Linked DNA regions of Homo sapiens. The protein of the gene in region 5 purifies or fractionates together with the protein of the main gene of each other region. This does not show direct contact. Each region holds a gene or a part of one and is shown on either strand. Other genes may lie near its edges. The genes, in order: PLCD1, DSG4, CCKBR, MRS2, DYM, HTR1E and PNPT1.

What was found.
Region 1: the proteins of DYM (region 5) and PLCD1 purify together in Homo sapiens (affinity purification with mass spectrometry; one large-scale study listed by BioGRID and IntAct). This does not show direct contact.
Region 2: the proteins of DYM (region 5) and DSG4 purify together in Homo sapiens (affinity purification with mass spectrometry; one large-scale study listed by BioGRID and IntAct). This does not show direct contact.
Region 3: the proteins of DYM (region 5) and CCKBR purify together in Homo sapiens (co-immunoprecipitation; one large-scale study listed by IntAct). This does not show direct contact.
Region 4: the proteins of DYM (region 5) and MRS2 purify together in Homo sapiens (affinity purification with mass spectrometry; one large-scale study listed by BioGRID and IntAct). This does not show direct contact.
Region 6: the proteins of DYM (region 5) and HTR1E purify together in Homo sapiens (co-immunoprecipitation; one large-scale study listed by IntAct). This does not show direct contact.
Region 7: the proteins of DYM (region 5) and PNPT1 fractionate together in Homo sapiens (co-fractionation; one large-scale study listed by BioGRID). This does not show direct contact.

Annotation. Positions count from the first base shown.
Region 1 is NC_000003.12:38,006,996-38,009,819, forward strand, and holds the end of PLCD1 (1-phosphatidylinositol 4,5-bisphosphate phosphodiesterase delta-1), read right to left. Parts: intron 2,817-2,824; coding exon 2,658-2,816; intron 2,437-2,657; coding exon 2,277-2,436; intron 2,164-2,276; coding exon 2,047-2,163; intron 1,642-2,046; coding exon 1,463-1,641; intron 1,373-1,462; coding exon 1,240-1,372; intron 1,169-1,239; coding exon 1,019-1,168; intron 864-1,018; coding exon 778-863; 3' UTR 501-777; downstream 1-500. Other genes in the region: VILL (villin-like protein), read left to right, coding at 1-60. UniProt on the Homo sapiens protein: The production of the second messenger molecules diacylglycerol (DAG) and inositol 1,4,5-trisphosphate (IP3) is mediated by activated phosphatidylinositol-specific phospholipase C enzymes. Essential for trophoblast and placental development.
Region 2 is NC_000018.10:31,386,777-31,390,276, reverse strand, and holds part of DSG4 (desmoglein-4 isoform 2 preproprotein), read right to left. Parts: coding exon 3,458-3,500; intron 1,911-3,457; coding exon 1,755-1,910; intron 1,404-1,754; coding exon 1,259-1,403; intron 1-1,258.
Region 3 is NC_000011.10:6,266,338-6,269,837, forward strand, and holds part of CCKBR (gastrin/cholecystokinin type B receptor), read left to right. Parts: intron 1-3,331; coding exon 3,332-3,500. UniProt on the Homo sapiens protein: Receptor for gastrin and cholecystokinin. The CCK-B receptors occur throughout the central nervous system where they modulate anxiety, analgesia, arousal, and neuroleptic activity.
Region 4 is NC_000006.12:24,409,436-24,412,935, reverse strand, and holds part of MRS2 (magnesium transporter MRS2 homolog, mitochondrial isoform b precursor), read right to left. Parts: intron 3,476-3,500; coding exon 3,363-3,475; intron 2,210-3,362; coding exon of another isoform or gene 2,137-2,209; intron 715-2,136; coding exon 541-714; intron 1-540. UniProt on the Homo sapiens protein: Magnesium transporter that mediates the influx of magnesium into the mitochondrial matrix and regulates magnesium metabolism. Also permeable to calcium, sodium and potassium ions.
Region 5 is NC_000018.10:49,373,646-49,377,145, forward strand, and holds part of DYM (dymeclin), read right to left. Parts: intron 1-3,500. UniProt on the Homo sapiens protein: Necessary for correct organization of Golgi apparatus. Involved in bone development.
Region 6 is NC_000006.12:86,944,028-86,947,527, forward strand, and holds part of HTR1E (5-hydroxytryptamine receptor 1E), read left to right. Parts: intron 1-3,500. UniProt on the Homo sapiens protein: G-protein coupled receptor for 5-hydroxytryptamine (serotonin). Also functions as a receptor for various alkaloids and psychoactive substances.
Region 7 is NC_000002.12:55,645,345-55,648,844, forward strand, and holds part of PNPT1 (polyribonucleotide nucleotidyltransferase 1, mitochondrial precursor), read right to left. Parts: intron 2,110-3,500; coding exon 2,003-2,109; exon of another isoform or gene 1,929-2,002; intron 1,143-1,928; coding exon 1,071-1,142; intron 979-1,070; coding exon 915-978; intron 89-914; coding exon 5-88; intron 1-4. UniProt on the Homo sapiens protein: RNA-binding protein implicated in numerous RNA metabolic processes. Catalyzes the phosphorolysis of single-stranded polyribonucleotides processively in the 3'-to-5' direction. Mitochondrial intermembrane factor with RNA-processing exoribonulease activity.

The DNA.
Region 1 (2,824 bases), on a different chromosome or scaffold from region 5:
TTCTACAGCATGGCCACGTGGAGGCAGCGGCAGGAGAAAAAGCAGCTGGGCTTCTTCTGAACCCAAGCCCTCTCGACTGCCCCTATCCCCTGGACCCCAACATACCTACAATGCTGGGGAGGCCCTGCTTCCACTCCCCTCAGAGGCTTTTGGTCATCCTCTGCGTGTCAGTAAAAGCAGGCAGCCCATACGAGCTGTGGTATGCGTGCTTTCAAGCCCGGGCCACTCAGCAGGTCCACCTCTCAGGGGAAGGGGCCTCCAGGGCTGGCGGGTGTGAGCTCTCAGTGCCACCCCACAGAGGGGTTTATTTCTCGTTGGTCTCTCCAGATACCCCTGCCCTACTCAACTATGTGCAAGGAAGGTGGAGAGTGAGGTGCTAGGGCTCCAGCACTCTAGGACATGGGGACACACACACACACACACACACACACACACACACACACACACACACACGCTTCACAGGGGATTTTTCTGGCATCCAGGTAAAGAGACCACAAGGCTTAATCTTATCGTGATTTTTATAAAAATCCTTGACCACTCGCTGGCCGGAGGGTGGAGAGGGCTGCAGTGTTATTCCTAACGGAATGAAGGACAGCTCCAGGGACTGGGCTAGCTCCTGGTCCCCAGGGAGGCAGCAGCAGACACTATGTTAGGGCTGAAGGCAATTTGGGGGCCTAGCTCTGAGCAAGAGGCTGGGAGCAGCCACACCAGCCCTGTCCCCACATGTGGACAGAGGGCCCAGCCCACTCAGGGGGGACCCCACTGGCTTCCTCCAGCCTAGTCCTGGAGGGAGATCTTCACAAAGAGGGTGGCTGATGGATGCTGGTCCCCGTTCTTAGACATGAGGTGGACATGGCGGTATCCTGGTGGGTGGACAGGCAGGAGGGAACACAGAGAGAGTTCTGGTCATTCGGCGGCGGAGGGGGGGTGGATGCGTCAAGGGACAGCCAGCCCCAGCCCAAGAGACGCCAGGCCCTGCTTCCCACCACCTTGGCCATCCCCTTCTCTTGACACTCACCTTGCTTGAGGCTGTTCAAGGGGATGGTACTCTGGCCAATGAAGTCATTCTTGGAGGAGGCATCATAATCTTCCACCAAGAAGCGGATGAGGGCAAGGTCAGGCACAACTACCTCAAACGCAAACTCCGTGTCCCACCATGGGTTGAAACCTAGGGGGACAGGCACCATATCAGCAGCATGGACACCAGCCCTAGTAGCCCAGCCCAGGCCCAGCACCTACCATTGTTGGTGATGACAGCAGTCTGGCGGCTGGCCACGTCCCGGCTCACGCCATGGATCTCCACTGTCACTTTGGGGTCCACAATTGAATTCTTATTCTTGTTGACTTTTGGCAGCTGCTGCCCCGAAATGACCTGAGGAAAGGCAGAGGACAATGGACAGTTCAGGAGTGGTAGCGGGGAAGGGAGGTCCGTGGGCACCTGTCCCTCCTAGGTCCAGCGTACCCTGATGTTGAGCCGCTTCCGTGCCCACCAGGGCCCCTGAGCCAGGGCGCGGGGGTTAAAGGTGCCGTTGGGGTCTCGCAGGAAGGCGGGCTTCAGCACGTACCCACAGGCCCCGTTGTCCTGGAAGCGGCCCTGGTACACGTCCATCTCTGGCCCAGGTGTCTGGAAATTCAGGGCCACTACAGGCAGGACAGAGCAGTCACAGGCTGTGGGCTGGCCCTGGGGCCCTAGAGCACAGCCTGCTCAGGGTACACTAAGGCCTAGGGTCACATGGTGAGTTAGCAGGGCCCAGCATCACTCCAATGCCTGCTGCCCTCCTGCCACCCTCAGTGACCCACCATGCTAACCACACCTTCCATTCCTGGTGTGAGAATTCAAAGGACTAGTGTGCTAATGAGGTTTCAGACACTGTGACATGCTGGTGGGCAGATATTTCCAGACTGATATTACCAGCTCCACAAGCCCCTGCATTTGACCCTGCTTGGGTCCTCAGAGCTCCACTGCATGGCCTTCGAGGCTCCAGGCCCCCGGCCTTGGGACTGAAACCCTCCTCCAGGCCTCCTCCAGCCCCAGCCAGCCCATACCGATCTGGCAGCCCCCATTCCACATCTCCACGGGGCTGTAGTTGGAGGAGTCTGTTCTCCATCCAGCCGGGTAGATTCTGCTCAGGTGCCCCACGTTGTGGCGGACAAAGCCGTTTCCTGAGGGGAGGTGTGGTTCGGTCAGCAGTGGAGGCCTCCTGGTGAGGCCCAAGCCCTGCCCTGCCAATTCTCTCTGTAACAGAGCAGGGGAGTGGTGGGGAGCCAGGCCTCACCTGATTCTTGGAGCAGTCGAAGGGCACGGTTCTCAGAGAAGGACGCCATCTCGTAGAAGGCCTGTCCAGGGGTGCCAGGACTGGAGAAGCCCCCAAAGTGGACACTCTTGCAGTAAATGACCATGTCAGAGAGCTCCTGTGCTAGCCTGAGCTTGTCCTCCTGGGGAACACGGGGAGGCCCGGGTTAGATTCAGTGGTTGGGGTAGGGTAGGCACTGAGAAAGCCAGAAACCCAGGCGCAGAGAGACAGAGGGAGACAGACAGAGAGAGCGGGGCAGAGGGTCTGAGTGGCAGCCACAGAGAACTGAGACAAGGCAGACCTCCCACGGGTGAGGGGATGGGGAAGGCCCGGGCTGCCCCACCCCACAGCTCCCCCTCAAACCTTGGGCTTGTGCTGCACACGGCTCCTCACTGCCTCATCCTCCATCTCAGCAGCCTCGTCTTCGTCTGACACCACAGTGGCCTCAGGGCCACCCTCCCCTCCAGGGGGCAGGAGCCCCCCGAGCTTCTTCCCCTTCAGCAGGATCTTCCCCTTCAGTTGCTAGGTGG
Region 2 (3,500 bases), about 18 Mb from region 5:
GAAAATTATAGTTTAATTAAATGCAACATTATAATTATGTATTGAACACCTATATTCTTAATTGCCACTTTTCCAGAAAGCAGATAATTACTCTTGGTTGCATTGGAAGATAGCATTTTACCAAACAGTCACAAATTTATAATTATTGAAAAGAAGACTTGTCCATAGCAATATAAGAAGTTCCTAATTACTCATAGGTAGAAAGAACAGGTATCTTAGGCAAATCCCCAAGGATGTCAATCTACAGGACAGACTTTTCAGAATTGTCAGGTCCCTGATGTTCTTTTGCTTCCTAGGCAGGGAGACTTGGTTGTGGGTTTCACCTTCTCTTCCTTCACCAGTGTTGTTTTGAGGTGTGTTGATGAGGAAGCAAAGATGGACTTCGGAGTCTCTCTTTGTGTTGGCTCTCCTAGGCAAAATCTCTTTGCCTCTCTATGGGAGGACTATCCTAGTTCAAAAAAAAATTTTGTGTTTATCTGCCTTTTTTCCTGAAATTTATTTTTCCTATTATTTCCCCCCAAATTTGTTTAGAGGTATATGGGCAGACATAGATTTGAAAGGGAAAGGGACAACAGGGGTTTGGGGAACAAACTGATATTCATGTGCTGTATGTAAAATCAAGGTCAGAAGGCAAAGGGAGAGGAGAGATAGGAAAGTAGCCATATAAGAAAAGCATAAGAGTAGGAAGGAAAGAAGTTCAGGAGAATTAATATAAAGGAAAGACAGAGGGTATTAGAACTGGAAATGGAATTAAGTGGAATGGAAAGAAATGAAAGAAAATGAGAGAATAGAATGTAGTTTGCTATGTAGTCTGTGAAGATCAATGATTACCCTTAGTGATTGATCTGATGGGTACAATTGCGTGTGCTTCCACCATCACGCTCTACCTGGTGTGGGTCAGCCAAACATTTTGAGTAAGAGACCAGAACAGAGCCTTCTTAAACATTCCTGGTTTATTCCTCAGTTTGCTCGCTTGGATTTAGTTCTTCATGAGCCCAGTAGCAATCTTTAAGCAAGGTGCTAAGCACCTGCTAAATCCCTGTAGGGACCTTCCGCAAGTAAGAAGATATTTTATTTTATCATTTTAGACATGATTTCTTTTTCTAGCTCAGTTATAAATTAAAATATGTGGGGTTTATTCAAAATACAAGTGTGGCTTTTTCTGTCCTTTACATTTCCTGTATGTCAGTCCTCTAAAGCTTTTGACCAAGAGAAGTAGATATGCTGTGACGTAGAGAAGGAATGTCATTCTACTTACTGGCATCACTATTTTCTTCAATGCTGGCTGTGTATACACTTTGCGAAAAGACTGGAGCGTTATCATTTATGTCCATAACTTTGACTCTAAGCTCAAGAGGCCTTTCTAAATCTTCACCCCGTGAATTCAGAGCCCGGCAATAGATCTGTGGAAAATTGGAAAAAAGCCATCTTTTTCCACCAAAGGAATTTTAGTAACATGCTTGAAAATATATCAGAAAATAGGCAAAGAAACAATTTTTTCCAGTGAATTCAGACTGTAGTACAGTCAAATAATTTAAATATGATCAGGACACTTGACTACATGTACATGCAACATACCAGAGAATCCTGAACTATAAACTTTTATTTTCACACTCTTTCCATTCCTTCAAGTCTTCTATTTGGGTTCAGTCTGCCATGTTTTATCAAAAGTAATCCATTATCTTAAGATAATATTTTTTGAAAAAGGGAAGAAAACTAATATGAACAAATCAAAACATATGGCTATGACTTACCAAGAAAAGTGGAGTTATTTCTCTGTCTACCACTGAAGTGATGTTAATTTCCCCAGTGCGAGGATTAATGGTGAATACCCCATATGGTGGTCGATCAATCCCTACTCCAGAAATCCGGTATGTTATCTTCTGGTTCGATTCGCAGTCTGATCGAATCTATAAGAAAAATAGCTAGGATTGTGATCCAGTTTAGAGCAGATAATGCTTAAGAGTGTAGTGGAATAAGAAGGGAGTGGGTTTCTTTACCAAATGGGCTTTGGATTGAAACCTGACACCATGACTTAGTCCTGTGTGACCCTGGAAAATTTACTTAACTTTGCCCAGATCAGCTTACAGTGGGGATAATATCACACAGATTTGTTGTGGGAATTACATGAGGTAATGTGTATAACATACACACTTGGTGCTAGGTTTGTTGTTAATAACACATTGTTCAATTCTCTGATTTTTTAGCATACGCAGAAATAGCTTCACAAAAGAAATTACAACATTTACTATTTTTTAAAAATAACTTGTGTCATATTAATAAGTATCCTACCTAAGCTGGAGTCTGAGATTTAGTCAAAATGGTAGATAAGTTGAGAATATCAGAAAACTATAATGGTTAGAGATATTTGTAATAATTTTATAAATGTAAACATACTGCATCACTTTTCTGCCAAATAGATTTTATGGCAAATATTCTGCCACACAGATTTTGCTTTAGTAGCTTTATTACCTATTGCTGATAAATTTAAACTGAAACAATTTTGAAATCTCACCTATATACTAACGATAAGAGCATTCAGTAAAATAGTAAGATTTTTTACCCACACATTCACAGTCAAATAAAGACTGCTGGAAATAGAACTTTGGTTAGCTTAACTCTAATCCAAAGGCCCTTTTTACATAGAAGAAAACTCAAGAACCTCCCAAAATGCAGAGAAAAAGAAAAGAATATGCAATATAAGTGGAATAACATAAAGCAATTACTGAGTTGAATGGAAATAATAATTTAAAAGCGTCCCTCCAATTTGAAAACATCTGAGAGAGAATACATCTGTTTTCTTGAGCTGAGGTTGTATCTGTAACACCACTGCTGATGCTTACTATGTTTTTAATATAAAGCTGGAAGGAGGGAATTCTGCAGATCACTTTACTGTTCAGGATCAAGATGTCCAGAAAGAGTGAATGAAGCTATTAATGTGGATCCCATCCTTCCTGGATCAATTTATTACACATTCTTTAACTCTCCTTCCTTTTCAGTAGGCATTATTTGTGAAAGTCTTATAAGACTCTCTTATTTTCTGGATGTAGAGATCTGGTGGGAACTTTTGATACTATCCTTACTTTCCTGGAGTTAATTCATCTAGTGCAGTAAACTTGGCTTGACTTTCTGGAGGGCCAGGCTTCAGACTGTCACTATGTGAATACGTTTCCTATGACATTGACAGGCAATAATGAGCAGTACACAAATGGATGAACAAAGCCCAGTTGTGCTGGAGATCCAGCCCTTTCTTCTAGAATCACTTGCCATTGACTGCCTGCCCCACGTCAGCCTCCCTGCACATGATATTCAAATCAGTGGCTCAGCAACTGGAGCAAATGACCACATTCTGTCTTCTTAAATAACTGTGGAGCAGTGAAGCCTGCAAATCTTGGAGATATTTGAAAGCTTCCCTGCTCTGCAAAAGCATTTGTCATCAGATTGCTTCATCACTTACTTTGGCAATGGGGTTCCTCTTCGAGTTGTCCTCTCCTTCTCGA
Region 3 (3,500 bases), on a different chromosome or scaffold from region 5:
AATTAGCCGGGCGTGGTGGTGCATGCCTGTAATTCTAGCTACTCAGGAGGCTGAGGCAGGAGAATCGCTTGAACCCAGGAGGCAAAGGTTGCGGTGAGCCAAGATCATGCCATTGCACTCCAGCCTGGGCAACAAGAGCAAAACTCCATCTCAAAAACAAAAACAAAAACAAACAAACAAACAAAAAACATGGAGGTAGTATGATGAATAACAGAGTACTGCAGGAACAAACAGTAGGAGGCAAAGCACATTAGGGATCAGGGACTTGGCTTCTATTCTGATTCAGCCCCTTATCAGGTGTGTGGTCTTGAGCAAAGAATGTTACTGCTGAGTTCGGTTTGGAAGTTTTTATAAATAGCATTTATTTGATGCCTACAATTTCTAAATAAATTGGTTTTTGTTATGAGAAAATACAGTCATGCATTAACTAATGATGGGGATACCTTCTGAGAAATGCATCATTAGGTGATTTCATTGTGTAAACATCATAGAGTGTTTGTCACACAAACCTAGAAGGTATAGCCTACTACATACCTAGGCTATACGGTATAGCCTACTGCTCCCAGGCTGCAAACCTGTACAGTATATTACTGTGCTGAATATTGTAGGGAAGAGTAACACAATGTTATGTATTTGTGTATCTAAACATAGAAAAGGTACAGTGAAAATACAGCATAAAAGATAAACCATCATACACCTGTATAGGGCACGTACCGTTAATGGAACTTGCAGGAGTAGATGTTGCTCTGGCTAAGTCAGTGATGAGTGGTGAGTGAAAGTAAAGGCCTAGGACATTACTGTACACTACTGTAGACTTTATAAACACTGGATACTTAGGCTACACTAAATGTATTTAATAATAAATTAAACTTAGCATACTGTAACTTTTTACTTTATAAACTTTTTGACTCTTTTGTAATAACACAGTGTAAAACAAAAAACACATTGTATGGCTATACAAAAATATTTTCTTTTTTTATACTCTTATCCTATAAGCATTTTTCTGTTTTTAACTTTAGAAAAAAAAAAAACCTTTCTGTTAAAACCAAGACACAAACACACACATTGGGCTACACAGGGTCAGGATAAATATTGCCATCTTCCACCTCTACATCTTGTCCCACTGGAAGGTCATCAGGGCAACACCACACATGGAGCTGTCATCTCCTATAATAACGGTGCTTTATTCTGGAATACATCTTAAAGGACCTGCCTGAGTCTGTTTTATAGTTAACTTTTTTAAAAAAATAAGTAAGAGTATACTCTAAAATAATGATTGAAAGTATAATGTAGTAAATACATCAACCAGTCACACAGTCATTTATTATCACTATCAAGTATTATGTACATCATTGTATGTGCTAGGCTTTTATATGACTGACAGCACAGTAGGTTTGTTTATACCAGTATCCCCACAAACACATACGTAATGCATTATGCTGCAATGTTACAATAACATTACTAGGTGATAGAAACTTTTCAGCTCCATTATAATCTTTTGTTGTTGTTATTTTGGGTTTTGTTTGAGACAGAGTCTCACTCTGTTGTGCAGGCTGGAGTGCAGTGGCACTATCATAGCTCATTGCAGCCTTGAACTCCTGGGTTCAAGCAATCTTTCTGCCTCAAACTCCTGAGTAGCTATGACTATAGGCACGTATCACCACACCCAGCTAATTTTTTATGTTTTGTAGAGACGGGACTTTGCTATGTTGCTCAGGCTGATCTCAAGCTCCTGGCCTCAGGTGATCCTCCCGCCTTGGCCTCTCAAAGTGCTGGGATTACAAAGATAAGCCACTGCACTCAGCTGTTCATTACAATCTTATGAGACCACCATCGTATATGAAATTGGTCATTTACCAAAACATCGTTATTCAGTGCATGGCTGTAGTTTTCAATTTGGGAGCTAAAATGAGAATCAGTCAAAGTATGGGGCTCTGGAAGAGGGGGCTGCAGCTTTGAGGCTTTCCTTCTCTGCAATCTAGGAGGCTCTGTCCCCTGCCCTCTCTACCTTCCAGCTCTAATCCCTCTCATGCTGAGGCCATAGGTGTGAGTAATTCAGTCCTGTTCAATCCAATTCGATTTTATCTAAATCTGCTTGGCTGTGATGTGGTGGTCCAAAGATTAATCCATCTTTTAATAGACAATGACACAAAAGAATGGGGTCAGCCTCCCAGCCCCTCTGCCTCACACAGGTGTCCCTCCTATGAGCTCCAACAGCACCTTATACATCCTTCAGCCTCACTCCTTATCACATCTGTTTATGTATCTGAGTTTACTTCCCCACTGTGAGCTCTCAAATGGCAGGGATCTTGTCATGTTCATCTCTTTGTCCCCAGTGCCTAGCACAAAGGGAGTCCTCTGTAAATGTTTATAGAGTGAGAATGAATGTTTGGAGAGAATTAAAATACAAGGCAGAAGTAAAATAGGCTGTAATAGTTGTGTAAGAAACAGGCATGGGTCAGAGAAAGAGGAGAGTAGAAGGGCCTTACAGAAGGGCCTTACAGAAGAAGTAGCAGTCAATTTGAGTCTTGACCAACAAGGGATGAATAGGAATTCACCAGATACAGAAAATAAGCTTGTGATGAGGGGTAGAAGTTGTGAGGAGGGTTGGTAAAAGAGTATTCCGGTCTGAGAAACCAGCTTGAGCAGGGAGAGAGTCACAAGTGCAAATGATGCATTCAAGAAATTGAGTCATCCAGTGGCTTGCTTAAATGCCTGCTGTACAGGGAGGGGGTGGGAGAGAAAGAAGTCCCTTCTGGGAGGATCTTGATGATATTCTGAGGGGTTGCAGACAGTAGAGAGTAAGTGAAGTATTTTTTTTTTTTTTTTTTTTGCTTTTGTTTTTAGAGAATAAAGACATGATCTGATGTGATTCAAAAGGTAGTGGGTTGTCAACAGTGTAGAATACTCTAGCGGGGTCAAATAGAGTAGGCTAAGAAAGGACCTTTGAATTTAGCAGTTAAAGATTAGTGTACTTGGGAAGAAGTATGCACTGATAGGGCACAGAATATTGTATTGTAATGGAATGAAGAGTAAATGAGAAGACACAAATATCCTCTTAAGAAGTTTGTCTGCAGAAAGAAGGAAAGATTTGGAACGAACCTTGAGAAGAGACAGGCTTTCTTAAGGAAGGGCAGAGTTGGGCCAATTTAACCAAACCTCAAGGGGTTAGAAGGCTAAAGGATTCAAGTTCACCATTTACTGAGCAGTTCATCGGTGGGGAATGTAGGCATCTGGCTGGGTAGTGAGGGTTGGGGATAAGACGGAAGGAGGGGGATTTGACTGAATGAAGGCTGACCCCCTACTGCCACCTCTCCCTTTTCTTACCCAGAATTGGAGCTGGCCATTAGAATCACTCTTTACGCAGTGATCTTCCTGATGAGCGTTGGAGGAAATATGCTCATCATCGTGGTCCTGGGACTGAGCCGCCGCCTGAGGACTGTCACCAATGCCTTCCTCCTCTCACTGGCAGTCAGCGACCTCCTGCTGGCTGTGGCTTG
Region 4 (3,500 bases), on a different chromosome or scaffold from region 5:
TATGCTCCCAGCACCAACTCTTGCATGTAGCCAGTTCCTGAACAGTACCATCCTGACTTAACAGGAGGAAGAAAAGATAATGAAAGATTTGTGGGGTCAGGGAAGCAGAGAACCACCCTTGTTTAGAGCCTGACAGGAGTCTCAGACATCTAAGGACTCTTAATTTAAAGGAGGAGTCACTGGAAGAACTGTGCGTGATTCCTATGTCAATCTAGGTCTCAAAAAGATGCATCATTTACCTGGCTCAAACAAAGGATTGTACAAACAAATCAAAAAATGACTTGATGAAATGATTTAATAAAATAATTATCACATGTCAAGCATTTTTATAATATACATAGAGTCTTTAGTTCTATTTGACTGGGTCATAACATTTAAGAATTAAGTGATATCTCCATGTAGGATCCTTAGAGACGACTTGTTTCGGGGCAGGATGTGGTCAGGGGACATGCCATTGAAACAATACCCCAACTTGTCTTCCCACTCAATGACATTTCAAAATCAGAATAAACCCAAGAAGCTAAATAAAAACAGACTTACCCAATATTGCAGGAGTGCTTCTATAGCTCTAAACTCAAAAGGTAAAGGGTATGTAACGAGTTGACCCTCTCCAGACAACTGTGAAGGGAGTTCCCGGAACAGCCATTGCTCTAAGTTTAAATTACGATAATCTAATATCAGAAGACACTCTGGAGTTATCACAGCTTTCAAATACTGTTAAAAAAAAAAAAACCAAAACATATAAATATGTGAGTGTATATACACACATGCATGTATATACATATATATGTATACATACATATATATATGCAAATTGTAGAGCTGTAGGAAAAAAGAACATTCATAAAATTTGGTTTAATACTTTACTAATTGTGGATTAAGACTAAACCAAATCAGTGTTCATTTTTGTTTTTCAAAAAAATCAAGGTTTTTTTTTTCAAAAGAAAAGAAACTTAAAAAATATATGTCTTGATACTGCTAACTCACTCTCAATAAAACTGGAATTATTCACATAAATTATATATTTACTAAGACTTCTGGGGTAATCATGAAAAAAAAACAAAAACAAAAAAAAAAACACCAAAAAATACCCCCAGAAAGCCGGGCATGGTGGCTCATGCCTGTAATCCCAGCACTTTTGGAGGCTGAGGAAGGTGGATCATGAGGTCAAGAGATCGAGACCATCCTGGCCAACATGGTGAAACCCCGTCTCTACTAAAAATACAAAAATCAGTTAGGCGTGGTGGCCCACACCTGTAGTCCCAGCTACTTCAGAGGCTGAGGCAGGAGAATCGCTTGAACCTGGGAGGCGGAGTTTGCAGTGAGCTGAGATTGTGCCACTGCACTCCAGCCTGGCGACAGAGCGAGACTCCGTCTTTCTTTTTTGGAAAAAATAAATAAATAAATAAAGGGAACAAGATAAGGTCTTCCTAAAAGTCAGGTATTGAGCAGACTTTTAGAAAAGATTTAGTTTAATCATAATTAGTTTGGCACAAATGGAAGTTTCCTTTTTAAAACACCACTAAAGCATATAAACAAAATCTGAAATTAAGATGAAACATAGCCTTACTACTCTAATTTAGAACAATATGAAATTAGAATTTTTTCTAAAAAGACTGGTTATCTTGTATGTTAAAAGTAGATAAAGGTAGCCACTTTATCAGTGATATAGAAATTAGAGATAATTTTCTATTTTTACATTTTTCCAACATTCTATCATGAATTTTTTTTTCTTTTTTTTTTTTGAGATGGAAGTCTTGCTCTGTCACCCAGGCTGGAGTGCAGTGGGGCAATCTCGGCTCACTGCAACCTCCACCTTCAGGGTTCAAGCTATTCTCCTACCTCAGCCTCCTGAGTAGCTGGAATTACAGGCACCCGCCACCATGCCTGGCTAATTTTTGTATTTTTTAGTAGAGACGGGGTTTCACCATGTTGGTCAGGCTGGTCTCGAACTCCTGACCTCAGGTGATCCACCCCTCTCGGCCTCCCAAAGTGCTGGGATTACAGATGTGAGCCACCACAACCTAGCCTCATGAAAATTTTTATACAGAAAAGTTGAAAGATTGCAGTGAACACCATATACCCACCAGTTAGATTACACAATTATCATTCTGCTGAATTTGCTTTTTCACATACCTGTCTGTCTCTCCATGAAAGAGACACTGTTTTGAAGAATGCTAGCTACTGATTCCAAGAGTAGAGAATATTTCTGAAGAAAATCACATGGGAGAAGACTGCTTCATTTTTGATAAAGTATTTTTTATTTACTTATTTATTTTTAGAGATGGGATCTTGCTATGTTGCTTAGGCTGGTCACAAACTCCTGGTCTCTGGTGACCCTCCCACTTCAGCCTCCTGAGTAGCTGGGACTAAAGGCACATGCTACCAATACTGGCCCATTTTTTATTATTTTGATTAGTTCTAGAAAAATGAACAAAAATCTGCCATCAAAGACTCTTTGAAGAAAGTCTCATACCCACTACAGGGCCAATACCATTCATCTATTTTTGAACCTAAACATTAGCCCACCAAAATAACTGAAACCCACATTAACTCTGAATCACTAAAGAAAGTCAAATTATTATTTGGCATGCTCTGAATAGGTAAGGGAAAATACAATATATTTCAGAAAGTTTTCCATTAAAAAAATTTAAACTGGCCAGGCACGGTGGCTCATGCCTGTAATCCCAGCACTTTGGGAGGCAGAGGCAGGTGGATCACCTGAGGTCGGGAGTTTCAGAGCAGCCTGACCAACATGGAGAAACCCCATGTCTACTAAAAATACAAAATTAGCTGGGTTTGGTGGCTTATGCCTGTAATCCCAGCTACTCAGAAGGCTGAGGCAGGAGAATTGCTTGAACCTGGGAGGTGGAGGTTGCAGTGAGCCAAGATCGTGCCAGCCTGGGCAACAAGAGCAAAACTCCATCTCAAAAAAAAAATTAAGGCTATAAAATTTAATGTCTATTCCTGTGCTATTTAGAAAGCCAGAATACATTTTTGGTAGCTCAGGTTATACTATAATTACATGTAACTGTACACAATTGGATATATATCTATTATAAATCAGGATTGTCTTATAGTTTCCAGAACTAGAGAGTAAATCCCAACAGTGAGAATGAACACCACAGTCAGAGCTTTTCCAACTTAAAACACAGCAGTGTTATGCCTATTGAACATGTGCATATAATCCATATAAAATGAGTTCTACTCATAATAGCATATTAAGCTATAAAACATCCTATGTTTCAGGTAGCTATTTCTATTCCAAAATTACTTTTAACCTAGATACTAATCAAGATAGTTAGAAGGTAACTTTTATAAGATTGTATTGGAGAAACATAGATGAAAATAAAATATTTTACCTCCATTCTCATGATAATCCTATTGTTTCTGACTGTGATACTCATTACATGCTGAAATCTCAAATCTCTGGCTTGAAGACCTAACTCTTGGTATAATTCAGTTTTCTTCCTTTCTATAAAAGAAATAAACAGAGAGGG
Region 5 (3,500 bases):
TGGTAGGTTTCAACTTAATTTACCCAGCTCCTATTCAAGATGGAGTTGTTCTGGTTCCCATGCCTCTGACAATATCACGTTAAATAAAGTAAAAATATGCACATTTTGTAGGACATAATACAAAACAAAGTGCTGGGTTTGCAGGTATTGAGTGGGCTATGCTCTTGGGCCCTGTGAGGATAAACATTCACTCCATTCTTGCTGCTAGCACTTCATGGGAAGGTTTGCAACTTACCAAGCAGAACTATGTTTTTGGTACTACTGGCATCACAAACATGAAGGCCAGCATTAACAAAACTAACACACGCAAGACACAATTCTAATTAAAAGCTCTAACTTCAGACATCAGTATATATTTAAAAAATATAGAAGGCTAATGATCAAAATAGTAAATTAAACATATCCATCTCTTGAAACTCAAACTCAATGTATAAAGCACAAGCTCTGAAAATCATGCTAAATGATAAACAATAACTGTGAAAGATGATGGGGTGGTTTGGGAATAGTTAAATTAATTAGATTCTACATAATTCTCACAAATATTCTCTCCTAGAAAAAAATAAAGTATATAACATTCAAAATACCAAAATTCTGCAGTATCTCTCACACACCAACTTAGTTAACTTCCTCAAAATCCTTGATTAAGTCTATACTATAACATACAGTTATATGGTAGTCAGAGAACATAATGGTCAATCCCAAAAGAAGATCAAGACCAGCAAAAAATCTAGCTATATTCAGAAACAACTTAGAAGGTCTTATGTTCCTTTCCTACTTAGTGACTGAGAAAGAGACAGAAAATGTATTTTGCCTGTGAAAGTTTAGGGGGAAGAGGAAGCAGTACCTGTTTTTCCAGTACCACTAATCAAATGTGGAGTCAAAGGGACTTTTATTATTGAAATAAATTTTGGTGAAATGACAAATGCTCAATCTCTAAAAATATTAGGATGGTTCAGTTTGCTTCCTGTGCCTCAGCTCCCTTTTCCAAGGTAGCTTAATGAAAGGTAGCTTCAATAAAATTTGGCTGCCTAGGCCAGGCCCAGTGGCTCACACCTGTAATCCCAGCACTTTGGGAGGCCGAGGTGGGCAGATCACATGAGGTCAGGAGTTCAAGACCAGCCTGACCAACATGGTGAAACCCCTGTCTCTACTAAAAATACAAAAGTAACCGGGCATGGTGGCACATGCCTCTAATCCCAGATACTTGGGAGGCTGAGGTAGGAGAATCACCTGAACCCAGGAGGCGGAGGTTGCAGTGAGCCGAGATCGTTCCATTGCACTCCAACCAGGGCAACAAAAGTGAAACTGTCTCAAAAAAAAAAAAATTGGCTGCCTATCTTTTTTAGAGCAGAATCTCAAAAGTTCAACAGGAATTACTTCAGAGTAGAAAGCACAGAATCCAAGAAAGGAATGGCTGATCTACAGTGAAACTGGAGAGTTGTTTCCCCTGAGAAGACAAGGTAAACATTTTTATCCAAGGGAAATACTCGTGGGGCAGCCCCTAAACACCTGGGGCTCTCACAGTTACAAAGCGGGAAAGGGGAAAAGACACACACACACACACACACACACACACACACACACATCTATACCTACCTTGGGCTTTAGAAGAAAAAAATATATATATATAAACATATATACACATATATATATGTATATATACACACACACATATTCATTGTCATTTTATTCACCCTTTATAGGAAACTATTCTTAATAAATTATAACTTGGTACAGTATCTGAAATTTAACATTTTTTTAACAGCATCAAAGAGAATTTCAGTACCTATCCCCTTCCCCCTATCCCCCAAAGTTAATGAGGTAGTAATTCATACTAACTCAAAACTGGACAAAACAATAAGTGACCTTCCATGAAATGGTCTTCTGGGACAGAAGGGAAAATAAAAGATGACAGCAAATAAAACTGCTAAAATTGATATGCTTGCTTTATTCAAGAATAATAAAGTTATCCACATTTTAACTATGAAATGTAGAATAATACCTGAGATACTGTGATGGTTAATATCGAGTGTCAACTTGATCGGATTGAAAGATGCAAAGTACTGTTCCTGGATGTGTCTGTGAGGGTGTTGCCAAAGGAGATCAACGTTTGAGTCAGTGGACTGGGAGAGGCATACCCACCCTCAATCTGGGTGGGCACCATCTAATCAGCTGCCAGGACAAATAGAATAAAGCAGGCAGAAGAACATGGAAGGAACAGACTTGCTGAGTCTCCTGGCCTTCATCTTTCTCCCATGCTGGATGCTTCTTGCCCTCAAACACTGGACTCCAGATTCTTCTGTTTTTGGACCCTTGGACTTACACCAGTGGTTTGCCAGGGACTCTTGGGCCTTCAGACACAGACTGAAGGCTGCACTGTCAGCCCTACTTTTGAGGTTTTGGGACTCAAACTGGCTTCCTTGCTCCTCAGCTTGCACAGGGCCTATTGTGGCACTTCACGTTGTGATCATGTGAGTCACTACTCCTTAATAAACTCCCCTTCATATATACATCTATGCTATTTGTCCTGTCCCTCCAGAGAACCCTAATACAATAACTTTCAAAGAAAAGTAGAACATATGATTTCCCTTCCCTGCAACCAGCCAACTATGTCATCTGTTGGAAAGAAACTTTAGAACACTTACGAAACAAACTTAATTGTGATATTTTTAATTCAGTATGCTCTCAAGGATGAAACTTGAATTTAAATACACTCAACCATATTTGTCCAGTATCAGTAGAGGAAAACAAAAATGTTTCCACATAAACAGAAAACAAAAGATTGCTGATATCTTGCTCAAGCACAAACTAGAGTCTGCTCATCTATCTGCCTATTTGGGGACAGGGCATATGTAAACTGCAGCAAATTCCATTTAGTCTACAAACTTCTGACCAAAGAAAATGAAGAGCTCTTGCCTGCTAAATGTTCTGCATGCCTTGCACACAGCATTGCTATGAGGCAGTAGTTTCCTGCCCTGTGATGTTTGCCACCTTTCAGTTTTCTCAAAACCTGCAGAACTTAGTGAGATTCGGACCTTACAGAAATGAAAGGCGATAGACTCCTTGGACATGAACCTGCCAAATGGCTATCAAGGTGGCCAGTCACAGAAAAGCTGTTAAAATGTTAGAAGATGGTAAAATCGTATTTTCAAAGTGTGAGTCAAGAAGAATGTCCTTTTCTAATTTGGAAATACACTGAGGATAAGAATGAAGAAAAAGATTGCAGTAAAACAGAAATTCATATTCTATTTCTCCAAAACCGTTTCCTGATCTTGAAAGAGGCCATAAGGAGCCTAAAGAAGGATGAAATGACTGTCCTAAGTTGCTCAACAGTATGTGTAGAAAATTGCTCTACCATCAGGTAATGGGGTCTCAGAGGGAGAAGAGATAAATACACATGGTCACTCTGCTACTTGAGTTGAAAGTATTGTAAACTATTGTTTTCTTGTACCATGTCATTTCATTTGCTCAAAATGTAACATAATACCTTAATACATTTA
Region 6 (3,500 bases), on a different chromosome or scaffold from region 5:
AGCCTCAGGTCCCAGCTGGCTGCTGGCTGGAGACGTTCTTTTGCTACCACATGGACCTCTCTATAGGGCTACTAACAAAACAGAGTGCTTCATGCAGATGTTGCAGCTTGCTGTCCTTGGAGCAAGGGCTAAGATTGAAAGATAGCAAAATAGAAGCCAAGGTCTTTTTGTAACCTGATATCAGAAGTGATATCCCATGGCTTCTGCTGTGTTCCTCATTAGAGACAAGTCACTAGTTTCAGCCTAATTCAAGGGGAAGGGATTACACAGTGGGAGGAATACCTACAGGAACCAAATCATTGAGAGCCACCTGAGATACTGCCTGCCACAATATAAGACATCAGAAGCTGTTTGATAAAGACTCAATTCAGTATCACCTCGTGGTTTTATCTCATAGTAATGTTCTCAGACTGAAATTAGATAATCTGTCAAAGAATTTGTAAAATATAAAGCTCTATACAATATCAAGATTTTATTAGTTTTATTAATGCTGAGAATCCAGTTCCACTTTATAGATAGTGATATAAGAACAGCAAATCAATGATTAAGAGATGTGAATTTTACACCTTGCTGTGTGTGTGACCTTGGAAAAGCCATTTATTTGTTTCATACCTTAGTTCTCTCATGAAAGTGATGATAATAACAGACTTACCAGGATAAAATAGATAATAGACAGCCATGCAGCACATTGACAATATTTTGGTCACCCACAAACCACATATATGACAGTGGTCCCACAAATTATAATGGAGCTGAAAAATTCCTACAGCCTAGTGACATCATCGCTATTGCAATGTTGTTGTAGCACAATGTATCGCTCATGTGCTTGTGATGAGGCTGGTGTAAGCAAACCTGTGCTGCCAGTTGTATAAAAGTATAGCACATACAATTATGTATAGTATATAATACTTGATAATAAACAACTGTTACTGGTTTATACATTTACTGTACTATACTTTTTATCATTATTTTGGGGTGTGTTCCTACTTAATTAAAAAAAAAAAGTGAAAAGAAGTTTAACTGTAAAACAGCCTCAGGCAGGTCCTTCAGAAGGTATCCCAGAAAACAGCATTGTTATTACAGGAGATGACAGCTCCATGCATGTTATTGCCCCGAAGGACCTTCCAACGGACAGGATGTGTAAATAGATACAGTGATACTGATAATCCTGAGCCTGTGTAGGCTAAGGCTAATGTGTCTGTATCTTAGTTTTGTTTGTTTGTTTGTTTGTTTGTTTGAGACAGAGTCTCAGTCGCCCAGGCTGGAGTGCAGCAGCACAATCTCACCTCATTGCAACCTCCGCCTCCCAGGTTCAAGCAATTCTCCCACCTCAGCTTCCTAGTAGCTGGGATTACAGGCACTCACCACCATGCCCAGCTAATTTTTTGAATTTTTAGTAGAGACGGGATTTCACCATATTGGCCATGCTGGTCTTGAACCCCCGACCTCAAATGATTCGCCCGCCTCAGCCTCCCAAAGTGCTGGGATTACAGGCGTGAGTATCTTAGTTTTTAACAAAAAAGTGTGAAAAGGAAAGAAAAAATTTAAAGTTTTAAAAATAGAAAAAAGTTTATAAAATAATGTTATAAATAATGAGAATATTTTTGTATAGCTATACAATGTGTTTTAAGCTAAGTGCTATTACAAAAAGAGTCAAAAAGGTTTTTTTAATTTAAAAGTTTGGGGGTTTTTTGTTTTGTTTTTGTTTTTGTTTTTGTTTTTTTGAGATGACGTTTCTTTCTTGCCTCCCAGACTGGAGTGCAGTGGCGTGGTGATCCCAGTTCACTGCAACGTCCGCCTCCCCAGTTTCAAGCAATTCTCCTGCCTCAGCCTCCCAAGTAACTGGGATTACAGGCATGTGCCACCATGCCCAGCTAAATTTTGTATTTTTAGTAGAGATGGGGATTCACTATGTTGGCCAGGCTGGTCTCAATCTCCTGACCTCAGGTGGTTTACCTGCCTCGGCCTCCCAAAGTGCTGGTATTACAGGCATGAGCCACCACACCCGGCCTAATTAAAAAGTTTATAAAGTAAAAAAGTTATAGTAAGATAAGGTTAACTTATTATTGGAGAGAGAAAAAATGGTTTTTACAAATTAGGTATAGCTTAAGTGTACAGTGTTTTTAAAGTCTACAGTAGTGTACAGTAATGTACTAGGCCTTCATATTCGCTCAACACTGACTCACTGACTCACCCAGAGCAGCTTCTAATCCTGCAAACTCCATTCATGATAAGTTCCCTACACAAGTATCCCATTTTTTATCTTTATACCATATTTTCACTGTACCCTTTCTACGTTTAGATACACAAATACTATTGTGTTACATTTGCCTACAGTATTCAATACAGTAACATGCTGTCTGGCTTTGTAGCCTAGAAGCAATAGGCTATGCCACATAGCCTAGGTGTGCAGTAGGCTACACCATCTAGGTTTGTGGAAGTACACATCTTGATGTTCACACAATGATGAAATGGCCTAACAATGCATTTCTCAGAATGTATGATGCATGGCTATATATAAAATTATGCTGAAATCTAAAAAAATGAGATGATGGTCATAATGACAATGATGAAGATGACTATATGTTTCAGCTTCTACTCCATGGTCCTTTGAGGACAACTGAAGTAACTAGATATGATTTTTGTCAGTTGTGTTTTAAGTGTATGTATCAAATCCAGCTACCCCAAGTTTTACAATAACTTTATATGGTTTAATCTTATCTTGCTGAACACATTAGATATGCTGCCCTGAAAAGTGGCTTGCAAACAGAATTTTTAGAAACTGAACCATAATTAAAATGCACAGAGGCCGGGCACGGTGGCTCACACCTGTAATCCCAGTACTTTGGGAAGCCAAGACAGGCGGATCACCTGAGGTCAGGAGTTTGAGACCAGCCTGACCAACATGAAGAAACCCTGTCTCTACTAAAAATACAAAATTAGCCATGCGTGGTGGCACATGGCTGTAATCCCAGCTACTCAGGAAGCTGAGGCAGGAGAATCGCTTGAACCCAGGAGGCGGAGGTTGTGGTGAGCCGAGATCGCGCCATTGCACTCCAGCCTGGGCAACAAGAGCGAAACTCTGTCTCAAAAAAAAAATGCACAGAGAAGGTTTCCATGTATCTAGTGGAATTGTACAATGCTTATGTGATCTTGTGATATCATTAATATTTTGTAATATAAATAATTATCCTCATTATTTTAATTTTCTGGCATTGTAGCAACACCTGTATAAATATTTATAGTTACTTAAGAACTCACAAAACAACCTTTTGAAGTAGGCAAATAAAACCAACTCTTGGTTATCTCAAAGAGTTCTTTTTGTTTGATTCTTGTGTTATCTACATTTCTTCTCTCACTGTAAATTGGCATAAATTTGGCAGATACAAAACAAGTAAAGTTCAAACTCCTCCACTCAACCACTTTAAGGGATTTTTTTTCCTGCTTATAAGTATATCACATGTTCATTGTAGAAAATTTGGAAATGCAGAAAAGTATAA
Region 7 (3,500 bases), on a different chromosome or scaffold from region 5:
TTACCTACAACAGGTCCATTTTCTTTTCTAGATGCTCGAGGTTTTGAAATAGTTTTGTTCATGATCTGTAATATCTCCTTTTTTGCCACTAGAAGAGAAAAACACAAAAATTATAACTACATAAAACAAATATGATCTGAAATACTGTACTCTTAGTTTTCACGGTATACAATCTAAACCCTGTAGCTTAATAATTGAAGCTTTCCACATCCCTATTACCTTGAAAATTCACTCATATTCTCTTCTCCAAAAATCCCATCTTAAATAGAGTTGTTTAATTTGTAAAAATTGAAATTTCACTGGTAACCCACTTTGGCGTGTATTCATGTGTCCCAAAAACTTAGTTGTGCTTCTTCTTTTTTTAAAATAGATATGGGATCTCACTACGTTGCCCAGGCTGGTCTTGAACTCCTGGGGCTCAAGCAATCTTCCTGCCTTGGCCTCCCAAAGTGCTAGGATGAGCCACCATGCCATGCCTGGCTACTTAGTACTTCTTTTTTTTTGAGACATTTTCCCTCTGTCACCCAGGCTGGCGCGCAATGGCATGATCTCGGCTCACTGTAACCTCTGCCTCCTGGGCTCAAGCGATTCTCTTGTCTCAGCCTCCTGAGTAGCTGGGATTACAGGTATGCACCACCATGCCCGGCTAATTTTTGTACTTTTAGTAGAGACAGGGTTTCACCATGTTGGCCAGGCTGGTCTCGAACTCCTGACCTGAAGTGATCTGCCTGCCTCGGCCTCTCAAAGTGCTGGGATTACAGACATGAGCCACCACACCTGGCCAGTACTTCTTGATCTAAGTTATATGAAATTCCACTTTTTAAAGCAATATTTTATAATAAGCCTAATGAGAACTATAGTTCCCATTAGCAAAGTGGAAAAGAATGAAGGGAGAATCAAGCACACTAGCTCACCTGAAGCTTGTTGAATAGCCTCCATCACAATTTTTATTGGTATTCCAGGTAATTTAATATCAGCCTAATATGGAAAAGTCAAACAATTATATAAATATTGACTCATGGCATTATTTAAATGTTACAAAAATGAAACAAAATGGGTTTTAAAAATACCTGTAATGCAGTTATTCCTTTATTAGTGCCAGCTATTTTGAAGTCCATGTCACCATTGTAATCTTCAATTCCCTTCAGGAATTTAAAAAGTTATGACATAGTTTTAAACAAAAACAAAAGTCAACATATTCACTGTAGAAACATTTCAAAAAACAGCTTTAGAAGTAAACCATATCCTAAGTCCAAACACAAAGCAATGTTTTCTACATTAACTACCACTTCCAATTTGTGACTTTTTAAGCTACAATTATTTTCACCAGAAACATCATTTTATTTTTAGATCATTCCTTTCCCTCATAAATGCCTGAGAATGAATTTATGCTCATCCTAAAGTGAGTCATTATGAATACTTACACTGTGTAAGTATTACTGCAATACTTAAGGGTAAGTATTACTATTTTTTTAAAGTAATCATTTTATTTTATTTTATTTTACTTATTTTGAGACACAGTCTTGCTCTGTTGCCCAGGATGGAGTGCAGTGGCACGATCTTGGCTCACTGCAACCTCTGCCTCCCGGGTTCAAGCAATTCTGCCTCAGCCTGCCAAGTAGATGGGATTACAGGTGTGTGCCACCATGCCCAGGCTAATTTTTGTATTTTTAGTAGAGATGGAGTTTTGCCACATTAGCCAGACTGGTCTGGAACTCCTGACTTCCCAAAGTGCTGGGATTACAGGCATGAGTCACTGTGCCTGGCCTATTACTATTAATATAATATCTATTTTAAATTCATATCCTATAAGATACAAGGTGAACATGCAGAGGAGGAAGGGAAGAACAAGTACCTGTTCTTCAAATACTAGCATTCTTCTAAGCATACGCTAGGTGCAAAGTACATATAGTCTTCACCATTATTTGTTTTTATCTTTTAATTTTTATTTATTTATTTTTAGTCTTCATTATTAAATATTTGAAACCGAGAATATACTTGCCAAAATATCTGTCAGCAAACGATAATCTTCTATTTCACCCTTCTCAGGATCGGTTTTGGTGACCAATCCTATTGCTACGCCTGCAACAGCAGATGAAATTGGAACCCCTATAATTGGGAAAAAGAACAACTGTGGGTAATGTGTACATGAGCCTAAAACAAATATTTATCTATCAATTTTTTTTTTTTTTTGAGAGGGAGTCTCGGTCTGTTGCCCAGACTGGAGTGCAGTGGCATGATCTTGGCTCACTGTAGCCTCTGCTTCCTGGGTTCAAGCAATCCTCCCACCTCAGCCTCCCCTATAGCTGGGATTATAGGCACCCGCCAACACGCCTAGCTAATTTGCTTGTATTTTTAGTGGAGATGGGGTTTCAACCATGTTGGCCCTGTTGGTCTTGAACTCCTGACCTCAGGTGATCTGCCAGCCTCAGCCTCCCAAAGCGCTGGGATTACAAGCGTGAGCCACCGCGCCCAGCAGACATTTACTTTTAATGTAAGTGGATATTGTTGCCTAAATTGACAATCACCGAAGCTGAGTTGGAAGTCTTAAGAGGTCATCTGACTACTTCGTTTGTTTTTGAACATATAATAAAGTTCCCTAAAACAATGTAAACAAGTACTATATCCAGCAAAAACTTCTCTAACAATAGCAAACTTTATAACTTTTAAATTATCCGTTGGTTTGCTTTTTTGCTTCAGGTGTCTTATTTTCTTTTTGTTGGAAAGTAAGCATCTATTTGGTAAATTCTTCCAGCCTGAACTCCTCAGTTTACCTCCCCATGGCAGCTAACATTAGTGTATCCTCCTAGAAAATTTCTGTGCACAAGTATAAATGTAAATATAATCTTTTGTTTTCTTTACTCGTGGCGGCAGACTGTATGCATTTACTGTTCTGCACCTTGCCTTTTTCACTTAATAACATGTCTTGGATATTGACACATACCACCACACAAAGCTCTACTTTATTCCTTTGAATAGTTTTAGTACTCCCTGTATGTTTTACAAGTCACACACAGAAGTGCGATTGCTGAGTCAAAAGGTATGTGCATTTACGTTTGTTAGACTGTCAAACTGCCTTCTAAAGACATAGCATTTTAAACTTTTACCAGTGGTGTAAGAAGGTATATGCTACTCTATATTCTTATTAATTCTTGTCAAATCTTTTGATTTTTCTCAATTTAAAGTGTAAAAAATGGTTATTTTAAATCTGACTTGTTTTTTATGACTGAGGTTGAAAACTATTTCATGTTCATAAACCTATTTATATGTCTTATTTTGAGAACTCCCTGTTCATGGCCTTCAACACTTTTCTACTTGGTTGGCAGTCTTTTTATTACTGATTTTCTTTCAATATGGACAGAGCTTTATTAAAATGTAAAGATAAAATATTATGTTTAATAACATATAAATAAAATATTTTATTTCCTAGTTCGTTGACTTTGCTTATGGTCATTAGTTTTCTGTGTAGGATTTTTAGTTTACGTAATCATGGTTTCTGG